Homo sapiens: one gene and its partners. The protein of the gene in region 1 binds, or shares a complex with, the protein of each later gene. Each region holds a gene or a part of one and is shown in the gene's direction. Other genes may lie near its edges.

What was found. Proteins that work in one complex are often made in the same cells at the same time.
Region 2: TBP (region 1) and TAF1A share a complex: the UniProt entries of both Homo sapiens proteins name them as parts of the transcription factor SL1/TIF-IB complex.
Region 3: TBP (region 1) and GTF2H3 share a complex: the UniProt entries of both Homo sapiens proteins name them as parts of the TFIID-containing RNA polymerase II pre-initiation complex.

What each region holds. Positions count from the first base shown.
Region 1 is NC_000006.12:170,564,348-170,571,511, forward strand, and holds part of TBP (TATA-box-binding protein), read left to right. Parts: intron 1-197; coding exon 198-285; intron 286-2,570; coding exon 2,571-2,662; intron 2,663-5,264; coding exon 5,265-5,432; intron 5,433-7,062; coding exon 7,063-7,157; intron 7,158-7,164. UniProt on the Homo sapiens protein: The TFIID basal transcription factor complex plays a major role in the initiation of RNA polymerase II (Pol II)-dependent transcription.
Region 2 is NC_000001.11:222,572,934-222,579,933, reverse strand, and holds part of TAF1A (TATA box-binding protein-associated factor RNA polymerase I subunit A), read left to right. Parts: intron 1-43; exon of another isoform or gene 44-61; coding exon 62-175; intron 176-2,290; coding exon 2,291-2,489; intron 2,490-7,000. UniProt on the Homo sapiens protein: Component of the transcription factor SL1/TIF-IB complex, which is involved in the assembly of the PIC (pre-initiation complex) during RNA polymerase I-dependent transcription.
Region 3 is NC_000012.12:123,636,829-123,643,828, forward strand, and holds part of GTF2H3 (general transcription factor IIH subunit 3), read left to right. Parts: intron 1-2,435; coding exon 2,436-2,515; intron 2,516-7,000. UniProt on the Homo sapiens protein: Component of the general transcription and DNA repair factor IIH (TFIIH) core complex, which is involved in general and transcription-coupled nucleotide excision repair (NER) of damaged DNA and, when complexed to CAK, in RNA transcription by RNA polymerase II.

The sequences.
Region 1 (7,164 bases):
GCGTTATATGTATTAAATGGAATAATCTATATAAAATGCTCAACATGTGCATGATACTTGTTAAACAATAAATGTGAGCAATTAAAAAAAAGTAAAGCCTGGTTGAAATAATCAGATGTCTGCATAATTTCTAACGCCTCATCCAATGAAACTTAAGTAATTTAAATAGTCGTGTTTTCTTTTTAAATCTCTTACAGAAATATTGTATCCACAGTGAATCTTGGTTGTAAACTTGACCTAAAGACCATTGCACTTCGTGCCCGAAACGCCGAATATAATCCCAAGGTTAGATCTATTTTAATGTATTTCTTTTTTTTTTCTTTTTTGTCTCCTCTGCCGTGTCTCTATATTTTAATGTATTTCACGCTATAAAACAAATGTCTGTAGATCAGGCCAGGCACAGTGGCTAATGCCTGTAATCCCAGCACTTTGGGAGGCTGAGGAAGGAGAATTTCTTGAACCTAGGAGTTCACCACCAGCCCAGGCAACATGGCAAGACCCTGTCTCTTAAAAAAAAAAAAAAAATTGGCCGGGCTTGGTGGCTCACACGTGTAATCCCAGCACTTTGGGAGGCCGAGGTGGGCGGATCATCTGAGGTCAGGAGTTCAAGACCATCCTGGCCAACATAGTGAAACCCCGTCTCTACTAAAAATACAAAAATTTGCCGGGAGTGGTGGCATGCGCCTGTAATCCCGGCTACTTGGGAGGCTGAGGCAGGAGAATCACTTGATCCTGGGAGGCAGAGGTTGCAGTGAGCGGAGATTGCGCCATTGCATTCCAGCCTGGCAACAGAGCGAGACTCCGCCTCAAAAAAAAAATCTGTATATCAAAGAGTTTGTGTTATGCTTATTCCTTGACACCAATAAAATGAAGATCTAAAGTAAAATGTGCATTGTTTTGTATCTTTTATTGAGTGTCTGTGATATAAGAATCCCTGGGAGTACAGCAGTCTATAAAATAAGCTAAGTTATATATGTATTGTATTGGGATCATGTGAAGAATTTTGTATATGTATAGGGATGATGTTAGCCAGCTATAGTAGGCAAAGTAATTTGGATAAACATTAGCTGGGTTGAGAGAAATGTTAAGTAATGGACTTAGGGTGCATTTTAAAATCCCTGAAACATAATGCCTGAGATCTGAAAGACAGCTAAGGGTCTGAAAATCACCTTTTAACCACTCATAATGAGTCTGTATGACATGTAGCATTCTAAGAATTAATCTTTCATCTATTATAATCACATTTAGTTGAATACATAATTTTATTACTTTACGTTCTTAAGTGATATTTAACCAATAAAAATAGTAGAGGAAATTCTGGAAATTCAAAATAGCTAGGCTTTTCCTGGGACGTATATAAACTACTATATACTGCTAGCTTTTTTAGATGTTGATAAAATCACAGGGAAGACATAGAGCAGGTTTTAAACTAAAATTGTTAAAAGCCAGGCATGGTGACTCAGACCTGTAATTCCAGCACTTTGGGAGGCCAAGGTGGGAGGATCACTTGAGGCCAACAGTTCAAGACGAGCCTGGGCAACATAGCAAGGCCTTGTTTCATCAGAAAATTTAAAAAATTATCTGGGGTTGGTGGCACACACCTATAATCCCAGCTACTTGGGAGGCCAAGACAGAAGGATCTCTTGAGCTCAGGAATTCGAGGCTGCAGTGAGCCATGATTGCACCACTGCACTCCAGTCTGGGCAACAAAGTGAGACTCTTGTCTCTAAAAAAAAAAATTAATAAAATAAAAAAATAAAATTGTTAAAGCAATCTAGTTTGTCAAAGAGTCGTCTTAATTAGAAACATGTAGGTTTTTATTGTATAATTAAATGTATTAAAATATTTAAGTTGTTTCAAAGTAATTATTTGCTTTTTATCATGTACCTAATAACTGAGGCCATTAATTCAACCCACAGTTGAAATATTTTCCCCTTGAGTTACCACCTTAGCAAGAAAATTTTCTGAAAGAATTAACATGTTTCAAGCATAAAAAGCAGAAAATAAAAGTTAAAACTGTGTTTTTTTCCTAATTTGCATTTATGTGTTTAATACATTAATATTGTTTCTAAAGACCAATTGAAAGCATGATTTTACTTCATTACGTATTGATAGGCTTGTAATCTGATTTATTAATTCCATTAAGGTAGAAAAGGTTTATTGGTTTATTTGCCTCAAAATTCATATTAATAAAACAAAATGTATCAGAGAAGCTATAGTCATGATAAGCAGCAAATATAAAGTAGAAACAGAAGCACTTGTATTTATTGAGAACATAACCAAATTTTGCAAACATTTCTCTTGATGGAATGCTCATGTGAAAGAACATACAGATTTGGTATAACTTAGTCACAATTGATTATTTTCTGCTCCTTATGCAAAGGAATATTTGTTACATGTGGTGTATGCAAATCCTTTACAGATATACAGAAATACAGAACAAATATTTTGATAACTAGATGTACTATGTCCTTCCTACCAGTTGTGATTTTTTTGTCAATGGGTGGTTCGCCTAACAACATTGAGCAGTTTGGCATGACCTCACTAATGATTCTCTCTGACCATTGTAGCGGTTTGCTGCGGTAATCATGAGGATAAGAGAGCCACGAACCACGGCACTGATTTTCAGTTCTGGGAAAATGGTGTGCACAGGAGCCAAGAGGTAGCCGTAAGAAATTCATTCTTCTGGTCTATGGGTTATGAATGAAAAGGTGATATCTCATTGTTTTTAGGTTATTAGGTTAGCACTTTAACATGTTATTATTGCTTTCTTATAAAAACCATTTTAATATGATTCTATTAATTATTTTTATTTATTTATTTATTATTTGATTCTATTAATGTTAGATAGCAGTGATTTCATTTTCTTAAAAATTAGATATGGGCAGGCGTGGTGTCTCACCAAGGCGGGCAAATCACTTGAGGCCAGGAGTTCGAGACCAGCCTGACCAACATGGTGAAACTCCATCTCTACTAAAAATACAAAAATTAGCCAGGCGTGGTAGTGGATGTCTGTAGTCCCAGCTACTTGGGAGGCTGAAGCACGAGAATCGCTTAAATCCGGGAGGTGGAGGTTGCAGTGAGCTGAGATCATGCTACTGTACTCCAGCATGGGAGACAGAACAAGACACTTTCTCCAGAAAAAAGAAAAAAATTAGGTAAGATGTAATACAACATCAGAACTATTAATAAAATTCCCTTTATGTGAAAAATGTTGTAAATAACACAAATACATCTTGAAATGGAAGAAAAAATTGATCAAGAATTAAAACACTTCTAAGCTAATGGTGTAAGGGCTTTGCAGACCTTATTGGGCCTGGCAGCGTGACAGCATCACATGTGTTGGCTGCAGAAACCTGCCTTCTCACTGGAACTAGCTTTCATTAATAGTGTTTGAGTTGTGCAGATCTTAAGGAATGCACCCTTGTTATAAAATGTCATTGCCTATATTCTCCATCTGAAGTGATCCTGTCTGAAGGTTAGTACTCTGCGGCCCTGACTGTTCTAAACAGAGCTTATATACTTGGTAGAAGTCAAAAACTAGGGGGAAAATTAGTGACATTAGCTTCATAAATGAACTGAACAAATAAACTAAAACTTTTTAAATGAAAGAGTATTAAATGTACTTGGAGGTATCAACACATAGAAGGGGGCTGTGGATATTTTTGCTTATTCTGAAGTTTGAAATTGTCTTTCAGTGATGGGAATGCCATTGGTGTGGACATTCTGGCTCCTGATCTCCGAGGTTTTTCAGAATGCAGGACAAGGATGTGTTCTTGCCTTTCACTTCCCCTTGGCCACAACATGCAGTAGTAACCTCTTTAATTAAGAGCGTTTTTGTTTGCTTGTTTTCCCCTGCATGGAACATCAGAAACTTTTGGTTTATCAAGGCAAGCTTTTCATGCAGCATTTAGCCTTTTTGTCCCAGAGCATCTGAAAACTGAATATTGTATATGTAGTTGGATGACTATTTCATCAAGACAAGAAACCACCAATACATTTACCTGAAATTTAAAAGCGTAGCATATATATATATGCTTGATTTTTGTTCTTCCTGATCCCCTGCACCTGATAGTCTCTTTATGGTAATATTTTCACATTCTTTTTTGTTGTTGTTGTTGTTTTTGAGATGGAGTCTCGCTCTGCGCCCAGGCTGGAGTGCAGTGGCATGATCTCGGCTCACTGCAAGCTCCGCCTCCTGGGTTCACGCCATTCTCTTGCCTCAGCCTCCCGAGTAGCAGAGACTACAGGTGCCCACCACCATGCCTGGCTAATTTTTGTATTTTTAGTAGAGATGGGGTTTCACTGTGTTAGCCAGGATGGTCTCAATCTCCTGACCTCATGATCCGCCTGCCTCAGCCTCCCAAAGTGTTGGGATTACAGGTGTGAGCCACCGTGCCCGACCTGCCTGCCTGCCTTTTTCTCTTTTATTTTTTCTTTTTTTCTCTTCTTTCTTTCTTTCCTTTTCTTTTTTTTTTTTTTTTTTTTTTTTTTTGGTGGAGTCACCTAGGCTGGAGTGCAGTGGCACAATCTTGGCTCACTGCAACCTCCACCTCCCAGGTTCAAGTGATTCTCCTGCCTCAGCCTCCCAAGTAGCTGGGATTGCAGGTGCCTGGCACCATGCCCAGCTAATTTTTGTATTTTTAGTAGAGATAGGGTTTCACCATGTTGACCAAGCTGGTCTCGAACTCTTGACCTCAGGTGAGCTATCCGCCTTGGCCTCCCAAAGTGCTTGGGATTAGAGGCGTGAGCCACCATGCCTGGCCCACATTCTGCTTTTCTTATGTAAGCTCTGAACTGCTAAGTCGTAGTTTATTCAACAAATGACATAGGAATGTCTATTCATGATGAGTCTTGGTATAAAAGAGGATAGAATTAGTGAATACATTGTTCAATAATAAATCTCATCAACATTTTCTGATCAAAATGAAGTTTGTTAGTTTTCCTCTCAGTAGAAATGCATGGGCTAAAATACAGAAATAGTGATGACTGATGATGGTGATAATTCACATCCATAAAATCTAGGGCTACAATAATTTGGCGGATTGAAAGGTCATTTTGGCAGGCCTACAGTTTTCTGTCAAGGATCCAGGAATACTTTATAAGGAATTGTGAATGCCTGTCAGTCTTTTCTCCTATTGCAAGAAGGCTGACCAGTTTACACTTTATTAGTTTACTGTTTTGGACTTTTTATAAGTTATTAGTCTAAATAAGTATTTTAGCTGGCTCTGAGTATGAATAACTCACTTTTTTCCTTTCCCTAGTGAAGAACAGTCCAGACTGGCAGCAAGAAAATATGCTAGAGTTGTACAGAAGTTGGGTTTTCCAGCTAAGTTCTTGGACTTCAAGATTCAGAATATGGTGGGGAGCTGTGATGTGAAGTTTCCTATAAGGTTAGAAGGCCTTGTGCTCACCCACCAACAATTTAGTAGGTAAGTCTGAAATGTATTATGATTGTTATTGGCAACAGTTCATTTATAATCTAAACATTGTTCAGAATAAAACACATGCAAAATATTCAGTATATGAGAACAGTTGACATGGTTATAGTTGTATGTATTCTTGCATTGTCTTCCTGATGTTCTCAGTCATATTTATCACCCTCACCAGCCTCTGCTTCCCTTATCACTTTGCGGTACCCATAACTCCCCTTTACTGGAATGAATTTGATTCTACTTCTGTATGTTTTATCGTTTTATTGCTGAATACACTTGGAATGCATGAATTGACCCTAACCTTGTATCAATTTTTTTTCCCAGTTTGGATCTTCTCTTTTAGTCAACATTGTGTCAGATCTACCAGCAAAGTGTGAAGTTGAGCGATAGGAACAACTTTCTAATTATCTTCCCTGCTACTTGCAGGTGAAGACTCACAGGCAGGCAGCCCTGCCCACCTCACTGCTTCATCTCATGGTCTTCTGGTGTCTGTTCACAGGCACATTAGTTCTGTGTGCCCCTGGGGCTCACTTGGTTCCTCCTGCCCTAGGCCTTTGCACTTGCCACTTTTATGCCTAGTATGCTCATTTCCCTTTTCACCTAGGAAGCTCCCACTTGAGTTCCATATGTCTACCCATTCCACTCTTCCTCAGAGAAGCCTGTCCTGAATTTTGTCTTAGGTCAGACACACAGAAACAGAGGCATCCTGTTTTCAGTCTCTCCGAACTGAGAAAAATGAGATTACTAGGCTTAGAAGAATATGTACCAGGCCTGGCCTGGTGGCTCACACCTGTAATCCCAGCATTTTGGGAGGCCGAGGCAGGCAGATCAGTTGAGTTCAGGAGTTCAAGACCAGCCTGGCCAACATGGTGAAACCTCGTCTTTACTAAAAATACAAAAATTAGCTGGACATGGTGGTGCATGCCTGTAATCCCAGTTACATGGGAGGCTGAGGCAGGACAATCATTCGAACCCAGGAGATGGAGGTTGCAGTGAGCCAAGATCGTGCCACTGTACTCCAGCCTGGGCGACACAGCAAGACTCCGTCTCAAAAAAAAAAAGAATATATACCAATAGTCCATTCAGTCAGACAGCTTAATCAGGTATAGGTTAATTCTCAGGCTAGTATATAAGTTTGATTAAATTTCCTGACCACAATTGTCAGCTAGAGAATATTTCAATTTAAGGAGGTAAGATATGATTAAAAGTTAAACTGTCAGTATTGGATCTTAGAAGTAAATGATTATTAGGACTGTAATAGTAATTATTAGGACTGTAAAAGTAAAGGATTATTATCTGCATTAGATATCATTATATCTAATGATATAGAGACTGCAGACATAACTACAGGGCTCTTTTTCTTAAATCAGAAAATCCAGATTCAATAGAAATAGGGTAAAGTGATAGGAGGACAAATAGCCTTCCATCCAGTGGTTATCAACTGACGACTACAAGTCGGCCTCACTTGCTTTAATTATTCTATTCTATCCTTTGATGCTGCTTGAAGAACTGTGTTTTACCTCTTGACTAGTTTGTTTATTCAGTATTTTTCCTTGTACAGGTCCTCATTTTATCTAAAAGCACACAAAGCTCTTGATTTCTAAACTTTTTGCAATTTTCCTTCTAGTTATGAGCCAGAGTTATTTCCTGGTTTAATCTACAGAATGATCAAACCCAGAATTGTTCTCCTTATTTTTGTTTCTGGAAAAGTTGTATTAACAGGTAAGTT
Region 2 (7,000 bases), on another chromosome or scaffold:
TTAGACAGAAATTGGTTAAGGCAAAAATTTTACATTTTGGCAGTAATTTCTGCTTTGACAGATTATTTGGAAGCTCGGAAGTGAAATTCTATTTTATCATCCCAAAAGCAACATGGAGAGTTTCAATACTTTTGCTAACCGGATGAAAAATATTGGCGTCATGAATTATTTAAAGGTGAGAATATGGGCTTTGTGAATTTACACTTGCAGTATTCTTTTTTTTTTCTAATTGCTTGTGTCAGTGATAAGGTAGTTAACCTAAAAAATGTGGGACAAGGATAAGACATTCTGGATAAATAAGAGAAACTGAAAGAAAAGAGCGTTATGAGAACCATTTACTTCTTGATTTTCAGGCGCCTCCTGTGTTCTCTGACTAAAAATTCCTTTTCTTTGTATATTTCTTCTGGCTGCCAAAACCAGTTATTCAGAGATTGCAGTGGTATGATGATGGGCCAGATTCTAAAATGTTTGCTGAAGTCACTTGAGCTTAGAGTTGGTGTTTAGAAAAGGAAAGAGCTAAACAAGTTGGGAATTTAAATACGTGAAAATATTTTAATACTTCTAATGTTTAGGTGGAATCTTCACCTCCAAGTTCATATATCCTTTTGTAAAAGTCTTATCCAAAAAGATTGAGACATTTTCAAAATATTGTATCTCCCTCTCTATGTTTTTGTCTCAAAGAGCACTTTTTCAATACAGGTTTGTAAATGCTTTGCTTTAAAAAAATGTTTTGAGTGTCTATTTGTGTGCCAGATGCTCTTACGATTTTGTTCTCTGGTAGACCAGGTATACTGTGAGTGGAAATTAAATGGGGGCAGTTTACGGTTCTACTTAAGAAAAAGCTTTCTAACTAAACAATTGGAAATGGGAATGGCCTACCCTGATGTGTGCTCTGCGTCTCTTTTTTCAGGTCTAAACTGGATAGCCATTTAATTAGGGAGGGAGTGTGAAGAGTAAACTGTTGGTTAGGTCCCTTTTGGCTCATAGAATCTACTCAGTTGAAGTAAAGAAACTGAAAGGGAACCTCATTTCTCAATAAGAGTCTGAGAGTGATAATTAGGATAGATAATACAATTTTTTTTGTTGTTAATAATTTTAAAAACACTTATTGCCGCTTACCAGGCAATATGCTAGACATGGTTCTTATAGTAGAGGAAGATCATGTAAATGGAATGAAGTGTTATGGGTACCATAGTAGAAATGTAACAAATGGTGAGAAGATAAAGGAGAAAATGGCCAGTTCTCTGGAACTAGAGAGGGTTGGGATTTAATGGGTAGGGGAATCAGGAAAAGAATGAAAGTGATACTTGAGATAAGTTTGCAAAAGCAATTGGCCATTCACTAGGCAGATTAGGGGAAAGGGCAGCCCTGCATGGCGGGGGTTATAAAGAGTTTAAAAGCCCTACATCCAATAATTTAGTTACTCTAAAAATCACTTGGGTAGAAGTTGGGGGAAGTAGGCTGGGCCCTGTGTGCCATACCCAGGGAACTTGGATTTTAATTCTGTAGTCAGTGGGAGCCATTGAAGGAGTTTATGCAAATGACTAACAAGATGAAATTTCTTTGGTAGCCACTTGAAAGATGGATTGTAGGGAGGCAGGAATGGAGAGGCCAGTTGACAACTTATTGCAGTACTTTGGCTCTACCCATATGATTAATTGTAGTTCTCATTATTCTCCTCTTTAATGTCTTCCCTTTTTGTAATACTCATTCTTTGTATAATTTTTCTTCCTGCTTCTCCTGTATCAGGGATACACTTTCCTCTCCATCTGAACTGAAGCCATTCTTCAGCATCCCTTATTAAGATATTTTCTCTAAGCTTATATAACATGTATAAAATAGTAATATTTGTTGAATGTCTGCTATGAGCCAAACTATTAGGTGATTTGCAAGTATTATCTCATTTAATCTTGAAAACACCCTTCTGAAGGGGCAGTAATGTTCCGTAAAACAAATGAGACTCACAAAGAGTGAATAATTTACCCAGGTTTATTTAGTTTTTAAGTGGTGTATGAACCAAGACACTCATCTTCAAAACCTCTTTTTTCCCCACTATATCACACTGTCTTTTGTTTGTAAGTTTACATAATTTAGCTCATATTTACATAGTGTTAATTGTTTCCTATGTCTTACTTCTTTGCCAGATTGTACCCAACATCAAAATTTTCCATGTCAAGTTATTTGTATCCTACCAAGGTCTTTGCCCAGCATGTATTATATATTTACTGAGCTTTTTGACTAATGGTTATCTAATGGCTTAAATGGCGGTGTACCCTTATTATTTTTGCAGATCTCCTTACAACATGCATTATACCTTCTGCATCATGGAATGCTTAAAGATGCTAAGAGAAATCTGAGTGAGGCAGAGACATGGAGACATGGTGAAAATACGTCTTCCCGGGAAATATTAATCAACCTTATTCAGGCCTATAAAGGGCTTTTACAGTATTATACCTGGTCTGAAAAGAAGATGGAATTGTCAAAGCTTGGTAAGTGAATACAGGTAAACTTTTTCTTATGATGAGACTGAGGGGCAGAGGGATCTTAAGGAGTAATCTAGTAATTTCCCTATTGACTTCATCCAGATATTATGGAGAACAGACTTTTTATGGATTTAAAATTCTTGATCCTTTATAATATTTCTGATATATAAAAAGCTTCAATCATAAATTAGATGGTTCATAATTAAGTTCATGATCATTTTAGGTTCATTGCTGTTTTGAATGTGATTTAGTCCAGGATAAACACAGCCAGACACAGCAGTGGAGACAGGTTTGATTCAGTAACTACTGACAGGAGGAAGAGCTAAACTCCATTCCAATTTCTATGGAGGTGACTTGGGGTTGTAAAGGGTGGGGGTGGGGAGCTTAAAAAGCAGAAGGCAGAACCACCAGTAAATTCTTCTGGAGTTTTCCCAGGCAAACATTTCAAGAGGGGCTGGGGTCATCCTGGGGATGTGGCCTTGAGCTGTTAGAAACTATGTTAGTGTTCTAGAAACTATGTTCAAGTATTTATTGGCCAAGTTTGAGGCCTAGTCCAGAAGAGAGCTCAGAGGAGCCTGGCTGGAGTTTGGTCAAGAAGAAAGTCTTTGCCAATTTCTAAGAAAGGCTACAGATTTTCTTCAGCAGTCATTATTACATATAATAAACATTTCTTCCTGTGTGCCTAGAATGGAGTTTAATTTACTTTGTAATGTTATTTCTCAGAATAATATGTTTAAAGAATAGGTCAAGATGGTCATTTCATTTTTGTGTAAAGGTTATAATGGACAATTTTCTTGATTTATTGACTATACCAGAAGTTGACCATTCAGTTCTCAAACTGATTCCCCTTCTCTTAACCTTCAATGGTGTTATCATCTTCATTTATGCCCAGATTTGCATTCACTGGAACTGTATGATTCTTTGCAATTCGCTTGCCTTGTATAGTTTCTCCGTAGGGGATAATCCTCGAGATTAACCTAATCTCTATGATTAACCCCTTTCTGTTTTCATCCTCCTCCATATCTTAGTCCTACTATTTATCACTTCTTATGTGGTAAGCAGTATTTCCTTATTATCCTTATGTGATAAGTGGTATTTCCTTGGTCTCTGGGCATGTAGTTTCACTAATTTCGATTCCCTTCCCTCTTCTTTCAAGATACTCTGAAATGCTCTCTTCATCATGATAATCTTGTGAGGCCTTTGTAGAGTCTCCTCTTCTAGAATGCTCTCTATTCTTCAAGACTCATTGGATCGCTGTCCCAAACCCTCATTCTTACACCTTAAACTTAATATATCAGCTGCATGTTCAGCCTGAATCATTTGGCTATTCATCTCTTGCTTTCTAATTGTGCTAAGTTTTTTCATGTGTATTTTATTAGTCCAGATATCTTCCCGTTTAGACTAATCAATGTTTGATGTAATATTCCTCTATTTCTTTTGTTAGTCTTGTCATATTTTCTGGTGTAATAGTTCTTTTTCAAAACTTACTCATTGATTAGGTTAGTTTTAAAGTCAGTATTTACTTTTCTTCTTATACATGGTTAGGTAAAACTCAAGCAAATATCTGATGATTAAAGCTGTTGGAACATCGCATTTGTAATGTTACTCTTGTGGATAGATGGTTCAGTACCTTTCCGTAGCTGACAGTTCTGTAGCAACAATAGATGATGATGGGATAATATGTAGAGCTCTTAGATGATCATTCACCTCAAGTGTCTATTTAACGAGAAAAAAAGTTAGGACTAGTTCTTTATAACCAAACTCATGGGCACTTACCATGTGAACTTGTACTTGGAGTCAGCTTGGGACTTTCTTGCTGTTATGTGGCTCTGTCTTGGTTGGGATTGATGCACTTGGTGACTAGGAACCTCCTTCTATAATAAATTCAAACCCAATTTATACTCAGGGATCTGTCTCTTTCTCTTTGAGGCAGAGTCTTGCTGTCTCAGTCTGGAGTCTCTTGCTGTCAGGCTGGAGTGCAGTGGTGTGATCACGGCTCATTGCAGCCTCGACCTCCTGGGCTCAAGTGATCCTCCCACCTCAGCCTCCCAAGGACTTGGGACTACAGGTGTGCACCATCAATTTTTTTTTTTGTGAAGATGGGGTCTTACTGTGTTGCTTAGGCTGGTCTTGAACCCCTGGGCTCAAGCAATCCTCCTGCCTCAGCCTTCCAAACTGCTAGGATTACAGGCGTGAACCACCATGCCCAGCCCTTTTTTTAAAAAAAATTTTTTTCCATATAATGTCTTACCTACTTTCCTATCACCTCATTTCTAAGTTCATATTGATATGTATTTAACTGATCCACTGGGAAAAAGATACCAGTGCCTCTGTTTGGTTTGCAGTATCTTGTGCTTCTAATAGCTATTTTTGAAAGACTTGAGTAACTTTCTTTGTAAACCTTTAAGATTGAGAAATAGATACAGAAAAAGCATATAAAACAAATGTGAGATATAATGAATAAATTTAAAATGGACATTCACATAACCACCACCCAGATTAAGAAACACAAAATACTGTCACCCTAACCTAAAATTCTCCCTGTGTGCCTTCCTGACTGCATTTCCTCCCATTCTCTCTCAAGAAAATCCCTGTCCTGACTTATGTTAATCACTCACTGGTTTTTCTTTATACTCTTTCCACTCATGTATACATTTGTAAACAATGTGATTTAGTTTTGCCTATATCTGAATGCTGTATTTGGAGTTGTACTGTATATATTCTTTTAGGCCTTGCATATTTTGTTCAAAATCAGTTTTAAGATAATACATGTTATTGGATGTAGCTCTAATTTATTCATTTTTTATGGTTATAAAATATTTTATGATAGTCACACTATTCCTTCTATTACTGATGGCCATTTAGGTTACTATTTTGGGCTATTATAAATAATTCTGCTTTGAAATGAACCCCTATTAATTTCTGTATACCGGTGCACATAAGTATGCATTTCTAGGAGTAGAATTGTCATAGAATATGTTTTGTGCGTCTTTAACTTTGGTACATAATATACTAAACTCTTTCCAAAGAGGTTACCAATTTGTACTTTACCGACAATCTGATTAGAGTTTTCTTTTGTTTGTATTCTCCTCAACATTTGTTATTGTCAGAGTTTTCATATCAGCCAATTTGTTGGGTGTAGTGATCTCTCATGGTTTTTTTTCTTTATAGCTTTATTGAGAATTAAGATATAATTCACATACCATACAAATTCACCCACTTAAAATATACAACTCAGTGGTTTTTAGTATATTCATAGAGTTGTAACCATCAGTACAATATTAGAATATTTTCATGACCCTAAAAAGAAACCCTGTGCTCTCCCATTTCTCCCCACCCCTCCAGTCCTAGGCAACCACTAATCTGCTTTCTGCCTCTAGAGATTTGCCTGTTCTGGACATTTCATACAAATGGAATCATACAGTATGTGGTCTTCTTTTACTTAGCATAATTTTTTTTTTCCCTAACAGAAAATTTTGACAAAGAAAGCATAATGTTTTTAATGTTATAGCATGTAATGGTACTTCATTTCTATTACTGAATAGAATTCCATTGTTTGTATATACTATATCTTAGGTATCCATTCATCAGTTGATGAACAATTAGATTGTTTCTACTTTTGCCTATTTTGAATAACATTGCTGTGAACATTTATGTACAAGTTTTTGTATGGACATGTGTTTTTATTTCTCTTGGGTATATACCTAAGAGAGAAATTGCTGGGTCATATAACTCTAAGTTTATCCTTTTTAAGAACCACTGGACTGTTTTCCAAAGCAATTGCACTATTTTACATCCCCAGTAGCGGTGTATGAGGGTACAAATTTCTCCACATCCTCACCAACACTTGCCATTATCTGTCTTTTCTATTATAGTCATCCTGGTGGGTGTGAAATGGCATCTTGTAGTTTTGATTTGCATTTTCCTGGGTGTTAATGATGTTGAGCATCTTTTCATGTGCTTATGGGCCATTTGTATATCATTTTTGGAGAAATTTTCATTCAGATCTTTTGCTCATATTTTAATTACCTGCTTTTAGATTATTGAGTTTTGTAAGAGTACTTAGTTGTTCTAGACAGAATTCTCTTATCAGATATATCAGATTCATGACTTGGAAATATTTTCACCTTTTCTGTGTGTTTTCACTATCTTTTTATTTTATTTTACTATTATTATTTTTTGAGACGGAGTCTCACTCTGTCACCGAGGCAGGAGTGCAAGTGGCGCAATCTCAGCTCACTGCAACCTCTGGCTCCCAGGTTCAAGTGATTCTCCTGCCTCAGCCTCCCGAGTAGGTGGGATTAGAGGTGCCTGCCACCACGCCCAGCTAATTTTTGTGTTTTTAGTAGAAATGGGGTTTCACCATGTTGGCCAGGCTGGTCTCGAACTCCTGACCTCAAGTGATCTGCCCACCTCAGCCTCCCAAAGTGTTGGAATTACAGATGTGAGCCACTGTGCCTGGCCTTCTTTTCACTATCTTGATGGTGTCCTTTGAAGCATAAAAGTGTTTCATTTGA
Region 3 (7,000 bases), on another chromosome or scaffold:
ATCGCTTGATCCCGGGAGGCGGAGGTTGCGGTGAGCCGAGATCGCGCCATTACACTCCACCCTGGGCAACAAGAGCAAAACTCCGTCTCAAAAAAAAAAAATAATAATTAGCTGGATGTGGTAGTGCACGCCTGTTGTCCCAGCTGTGTGGGAGACTGAGACAGGAAGATCACTTGAGCCCAGGAGGTCAAGGCTGCAGTGAGCTATATTCGTGGCACTGTACTCCAACCTTGAGACCTTGTCTCAAAAATTTGTTTAAAAATACATAAATAAATAAATGAGCATCCTGGGCCTTTCATAACAGTGTATACTCACAGGTTTGTATGTCTGTCTGTCACCTCAATTAGAGTATAGTCTCTTTGAGGGGTTGGACCCAGTATCCCCAACACCTAACACTGGTAGTGTGAAAGTTTGTTGAAGGATTAATGTGTTTGGGGTGGTGCGTGCATGTAGTCCTTACTACTGGGGAGGCTGATGCAGGAGGATCACAAGCCCAGGATTTCAAGACCAGCCTGGGCAATTTATTGAGACCCCCCCATCTCTTAAAAAAAACCCAAAAAACAAAAATCCAAATGAATGATTAATGTGTTGTGGTAGCCTGTTTAGTTTAGAGAATAGAATTCCTCTTAACAGTAAAATCTTGACGTAGGAATTGCTTTTCCCTCTGTTTTTTAACTTTTTTTTTTTTTTTTGAGACAGAGTCCCACTCTGTCACCCAGGCTGGAGTGCAGTGGCAAGATCTCAGCTCACTGCAACCTCTGCCTGCCAGGTTCAAGTGATTCTCCTGCCTCAGCCTCCCGAGTAGCTGGAATTACAGGTGTGCACCACCATGCCCGGCTAATATTTTGTATTTTTAGTAGGGACGGGGTTTTGCCATATTGGCTAGGCTGGTCTTGAACTCCTGACCTCAGTGATCTGCCCACCTCAGCCTCCCAAAGGGCTGGGATGGGCGCCCAGCCTGGTTTTTTTACCTTTTAAAAAGTGACTCTTAATTACGATTGGCCTTGCTGCTACATGATTTGATGAGTACGGGCCAAATTGACAGCTACGCCTCCCTTTAATTTTTTGCTCCTGAAATTCTACCACTGGGATTCCTACTACTAGTTAACCAGTGCCTTCTGTCCTTGACCAGGCATTCAGAATGCAGTAGGTGGTTTTGTTTGTTTGTTTGTTTGTTTGTTTGTTTCCAGACGGGGTCTCATTCTGTCTCCCAGGCTGGAGTGCATTGGCAGGAACATGGCTCACTGTAGCCTCGACTTCCCGGTCTCAAGCGATCCTCTCTCCTCACCCTCCTGAGTAGCTGGGACTACAGGCATGTGCCACCATGCCCGGCTATTTTTTTTTCCCCGAGATGAAGTCTTGCTCTGTTACCCAGGCTGGAGTGCAGTGGTGCAATCTTGGCTCACTGCAGCCTCCGCCTCCCGGGTTCAAGTGATTCTCCTGCCTCAGTCTCCCGAGTAGCTGGGATTACAGGTGCTTGCCACCAAACCCAGCTAATTTTTTTTTTTTTTTGTATTTTTAGTAGAGATGGGGTGGCTCAACATGTTGGCCGGGCTGGTCTTGAACTTATGACCTCAAGTGATCCCCCCTCCTTGGCCTTCCAAAATGCTGGGATCACAGGCATGAGCCACCGCGCCCGGCCCTAATTTTTATATTTTTAGTAGAGAAAAGGTTTTGCGATATTGCCCAGGCTGGTCTTGGGAACTTCTGAGCTCAAGCCATCTGCCTGTCTTGGCCTCCCAAAGTGCTAGGACTACAGGCCTGTGCCACCACACCTGGCCCTCGTTCAGTAGATATTTATTGAGCAGCTGCAATGTGCTAGGCAGTGTGGTAGGAGTGAGGATAAGCAGTGAACAAAAGAGACAAAAATTCCTACCCTCACAGAGTTTACATTTAGTGCATTGGAGATATAGTGGTTCAGGACGTAGACAAGAACTTGCTAAGGGCCCACTGTGCTTTAAAGCTTTTTTTTTTTTTTTTTTTTTGAGACAGAGTCTTGTTCTGTGGCCCAGGCTGGAGTGCAGTGGCGTGATCTCGGCTCACTGCAAGCTCCGCCTCCTGGGTTCACGCCATTCTCCTGGCTCAGCCTCCCGAGTAGCTGGGACTACAGGCGCCCACCACCACGCCCATCTAATTTTTTGTATTTTTAGTAGAGACGGGGTTTCACCGTGTTAGCCAGGATGGTCTCGATCTCCTGACCTCGTGATCTGCCTGCCTCGGCCTCCCAAAGTGCTGGGGTTACAGGCGTGAGCCACCACGCCCTGCCCAGCTTTAAAGCTTTAACTGGGTCTTCTGTTAATCTCATAATTATAAGGTGATAAACATTTAAGGCATATAGTGGTGCTCTGGATTTAATTTATGAATTGGGAATGTTAGCTTTGATTCATTTTTATGGAGCTAATGTTTTAAATTTTATTTCTTGTTAATATTTTCAGAAGATGAATTGAATCTTCTGGTTATTGTAGTTGATGCCAACCCAATTTGGTGGGGAAAGCAAGCATTAAAGGAATCTCAGGTAAGACTGCTTGAGGAGGCCTTTGGAGAATTCTGGTTTAACTGAGTGTTTATATTGCTTTTTTAAAAAATGGCTTTATTAAAGTATAATTTACATACTGTAATATTCAGCCACTGTACAATTCAGTGATTTTTTTTAAGTAAATTTGCGAAGTTGTGTAACCAGCCCCACATTTCTGCTTTAGAATATTTCTTTGACTGCGTAGCGTTCCCTCATGCCTGCTTGCAGTCAATCCCTGCTTCTATCTCCAAGCTGCAAGCAACCACTGATCTGCCCTCTATCTCTAAATTCCCTTTTCTGGACATTTCATGTATTGATTTCATACAATATGTGGTCTTAAAAAATACTTTCTATTTTGAAATATTTTATTTTTAAATAATATAGACATAGGAAACCAGAAAAGATACAGAGAGGTCCTGTGTACCCATCACTCAAGTTCTTTCAGTGGTGACATTTTACATAATGATAGTACAATTTTGAAACTATCAGTGCAATCTACAGACCTAAGCAGATTGCAGGTTTTACATGTGCTCACTTGTGTGTATGCGTGCGTGCGTGTATGTGTGTGGTTCTGTGCAGTTTTACCACATTCATTGATTTGTGTGTCCATCAGCACCACCATCTCATGCCTCAGCCTCCCGAGTACTTGGGACTACAGGTGCGTACCACCATGCTCAGCTAATTGTTTGTATTTTTAGTAGAGATGGGGTTTTGCCATGTTGGCCAGGCTGGTCTCGAACTCCTGGCCTCATGTGATCTGCCCGCTTTGGCTTCCTAAAGTGTTGGGATTATGGGAGTGAGCCACCGCACCTGGCTGATTCTTCATGTTTGTTCGTTTGTAATCTGGTCCCACTCTCGACCACACCTTCTTTGCCTGTCTGTACTCCCAGGCAACTCTTGATCTCTTTGTGTCACTGTAGATTAGTTTGGATTTTCTAGATTTTTTTCATGTAAATGGAATCAAACAGGTTATAGTGGGGAGGTTTTTGTGGCCTTTTTTTTTTTTTTTTGAGACGGAGTTTTGCTCTTGTTGCCCAGGCTAGAGTGCAATGGCGCGATCTCGGCTCACTGCAACCTTTGCCTCCTGGGTTCAAGTGATTCTCCTTCCTCAGCCTTCCGAGTAGCTGGGATTACAGGCATCCGTCACCACGCCCAGCTAATTTTTTGTATTTTTAGTAGAGTTGGAGTTTCACCATGTTGGCCAGGCTGATCTCGAACTCCTAAACTCAGGTGATCTGCCTACCTCGGCCTCCCAAAGTACTGGGATTACAGGCATGAGCCACTGTGCCTGGCCTTGTCTGTTCTTTTTAATGACAGGTTAGCTGTTTTCCACTTTTAAATGGTTTAAAATAAAATCAGAAGAATAACATTTTTGTGACTTGAAAATTATATGAAATTCAAATTTCTGGGTCTATAAATAAGCCTCACTCATAAATTTATGTATTTTCTGTGGCAGCTTTTGCATTACAAAAGCAGAGGTGGGTAGCAATAAAGATTGCATGGCTCAAAAAGCCTAAAATATTTACTATCTGGCCCTTCACAAAACAAGTTTACTGACCTCTGGCCGATTGTGTGGTCTGTTCTGGAGAATGTTGCATGTCTACTTGAAAAGAATGTGCATTCTTTTGTTTCTAGTGAAGTGTTCTATAAATGTCTATTAGTTTAAGTTGCGTGATAGCGCACCTATAGTCCCAGCTACTTGAGGCGCTGAGGTGGGAGGATCACTGGTGCCCAGGCGGTTGAGTCTGCAGTGAGCCATAACTATGCCACTGCACTCCAGCCTGGGAGACAGAGCAAGACCCCGTCTCAAAAAATATAAAATAAAAAAATAAAAAAATTATCGAGAATGGAATATTGAAATGAAGTATTGTTGTTGAATTGTGTATTTCTTTTTTTTTTTTGAAATGGAGTTTCGCTCTGTCACCCAGGTCGGAGTGCAGTGGTGTGATCTCTGCTCACTGCAACCTCTGCCTCCCGGTTCAAGCGATTCTTCTGCCTCAGTCTCCCAAGTAGCTGGGACCACAGGCGTGTACCACCACGCCTGGCTAATTTTTGTATTGTTAGTAGAGACGGGGCTTCGCCATGTTGGCCAGGCTGATCTTGAACTCCTGACCTCAAGTGATCTGCCTGCCTCGACCTCCCAAAGTGCTGGGGTTACAGGCATGAGCCACGTGTCTGCCCCCGTTTTTTTTTTTGTGTGTTTTTTTTTTGAGACAGAGTCTCACTCTGTCACCCAGGCTGGATAGCAGTGCTAGGATTACAAGTGTGAGCCACCATGCCCATTTCCCCATATTTTGATAGCAGCAGTTAGTGTACTCACATTTAATATAATTATTAGTGTGGTTGCGTTCATATCTGCTATTTTGTTATTTGTTTTCTGTATGTATCATGAATTTTTTGGTTCTTTGTCCTCCTTTACTGTCTTTTGTGTTAAATAAATATTTTTTACGTACTATATTAATTCTTCTGTTGATTTGATTAATTCTTCTGTATATTTTTAGTTTTTTTGTTTGTTTGTTTGTTTTTTGAGATGGAGTTTTGCTCTTGTCGCCCAGGCTAGAGTGCAATGGCACGATCTCGGCTCCCTGCAACCTCCATCTCCCTGGTTCAAGCAATTCTCCTGCCTCAGCCTCCCGAGTAGCTGGGATCACAGGCGCGTGCCACCATACCTGGCTAATTTTTGTATTTTTGGTAGTGACAGGGTTTCACCATATTGGTCAGGCTGATCTCTAATTCCTGACCTCAAGTGATCCTCCCGCCTCGGCCTCCCAAAGTGCTAGGATTACAGGCATGAGCCACTGCACCCAGCCTTCAGTTATTTTCTTTTTCTTTTCTTTTTTTTTTTGAGACAGAGTCTAGTTTTGTCGCCCAGGCTGGAGTGCATTGACATGATTTTGGCTTACTGCAACCTCTCTCTCCCGAGTTCAAGCAATTCTCCTGCCTCAGCCTCCCGAGTAGCTGGTATTTCAGGCATGCACCACCACACCCAGCTAATTTTTGTATTTTCAGTAGAGACGGGGTTTCGCCGTGTTGGCCAGGCTGGTCTCGATCTCTTGACCTCGTGATCCGCCCACCTCAGCCTCCCAAAGTGTTGGGATTACAGGCATGAGCCACCACACCTGGTCAATCTCTTCTTACTTGTGATTCTATTTCCAAAAAAGATCATGTACACATGTACCAGAAGTTAGGACTTGAACATATCTTTTGGGGGGACATAATTCGACCCACAACAGTTGCTGTAGGGATTACTGTATGTATCTTATCATTGTGTACTTTAGATTAATACTCATTTAATTCCAGTAAAATATAGAGGCTTTGCTCCAATATAGATCCACTTCCACCCCTTCCCCATGTTCTTATTGTCATACATATTACACCTGCGCATGTTATAAATCTGATAACGCAGTGTTATAATTGTTACTTACACAGTTGCTTACACCAAGTATAAGCATCTTTTCTCTTGTTAACAAAAAATAAAAATATCAGACAATATTCATGTTAGAACTACACTCATTTTTCAGCTGAAACCATACTCTTTTTTCTTTTTTTGAGATGGCGTCTTGCTCTGTCGCCCAGGCTGGAGTGCAGTGGTGCAATCTCGGCTTACCGCAATCTCCACCTCCCGGGTTCAAGCAATTCTGCCTCAGCCTCCCGAGTAGCTGGGACTACAGGCACACGTCACCATGCCCAGCTAATTTTTTGTGTGTGTATTTTAGTAGAGATGGGGTTTCACCATGTTGCCCAGGCTGGTTGCAAACTCCTGAGCTCAGGCAGTCTGCCCGCCTTGGCCTCCCAAAGTGCTGGGATTACAGGTGTGAGCTACTACGCCCGGCCCAACCATACTCATTTTTCAATTAGCTATGGATACAAGAATTCAGCAAAAATCAACATAGGCATTCTGTGAGAATCCATTGACTTATGCAATTTACTATAAAGAGTATTGTGCATTTTACTGTTATTTGTAAATTGTGTGCTACATACTGCTGTATCAGTAATATTCGTATGTACTTGTGTACATGGGTACCTCGGTTTTGGGGAGCGAATGGTTAAACATCCGCCAGCACATCACTGCATGCTGCCCTGTTACTCCAGAAAGGCTGCGTTTGCACTCATCAGTGCTGTATGAGAGTTCCTTTTTTCTTGTACCAACACAAAATGTTCATTCTCCTTATTTCATCTTTTGTCAATATGAGGCAAAAAACAACGTAATCTCAATTTGCTTCCAGTGTATTTCGTGGCCATTTGTATTTCTCTCTTGGGACATCACCCACTTCTTTCTTTGGATATTCATAGTGTGTGGTTTTTTTTAAATTAATGATTTATGGACAGTCTTTTATATTAAAGGATTAACCCATTACTTGCCATGTGTTGCAACTGGTTTTTTCCAGTTTGTAACTTGTTTTCTTTCACTTTTATTTATATTGTCACTTTTCGCCAATTAGAAATTTTAATAGATTTAAGTTTTTTTTCCAGTAGGGTGAAATT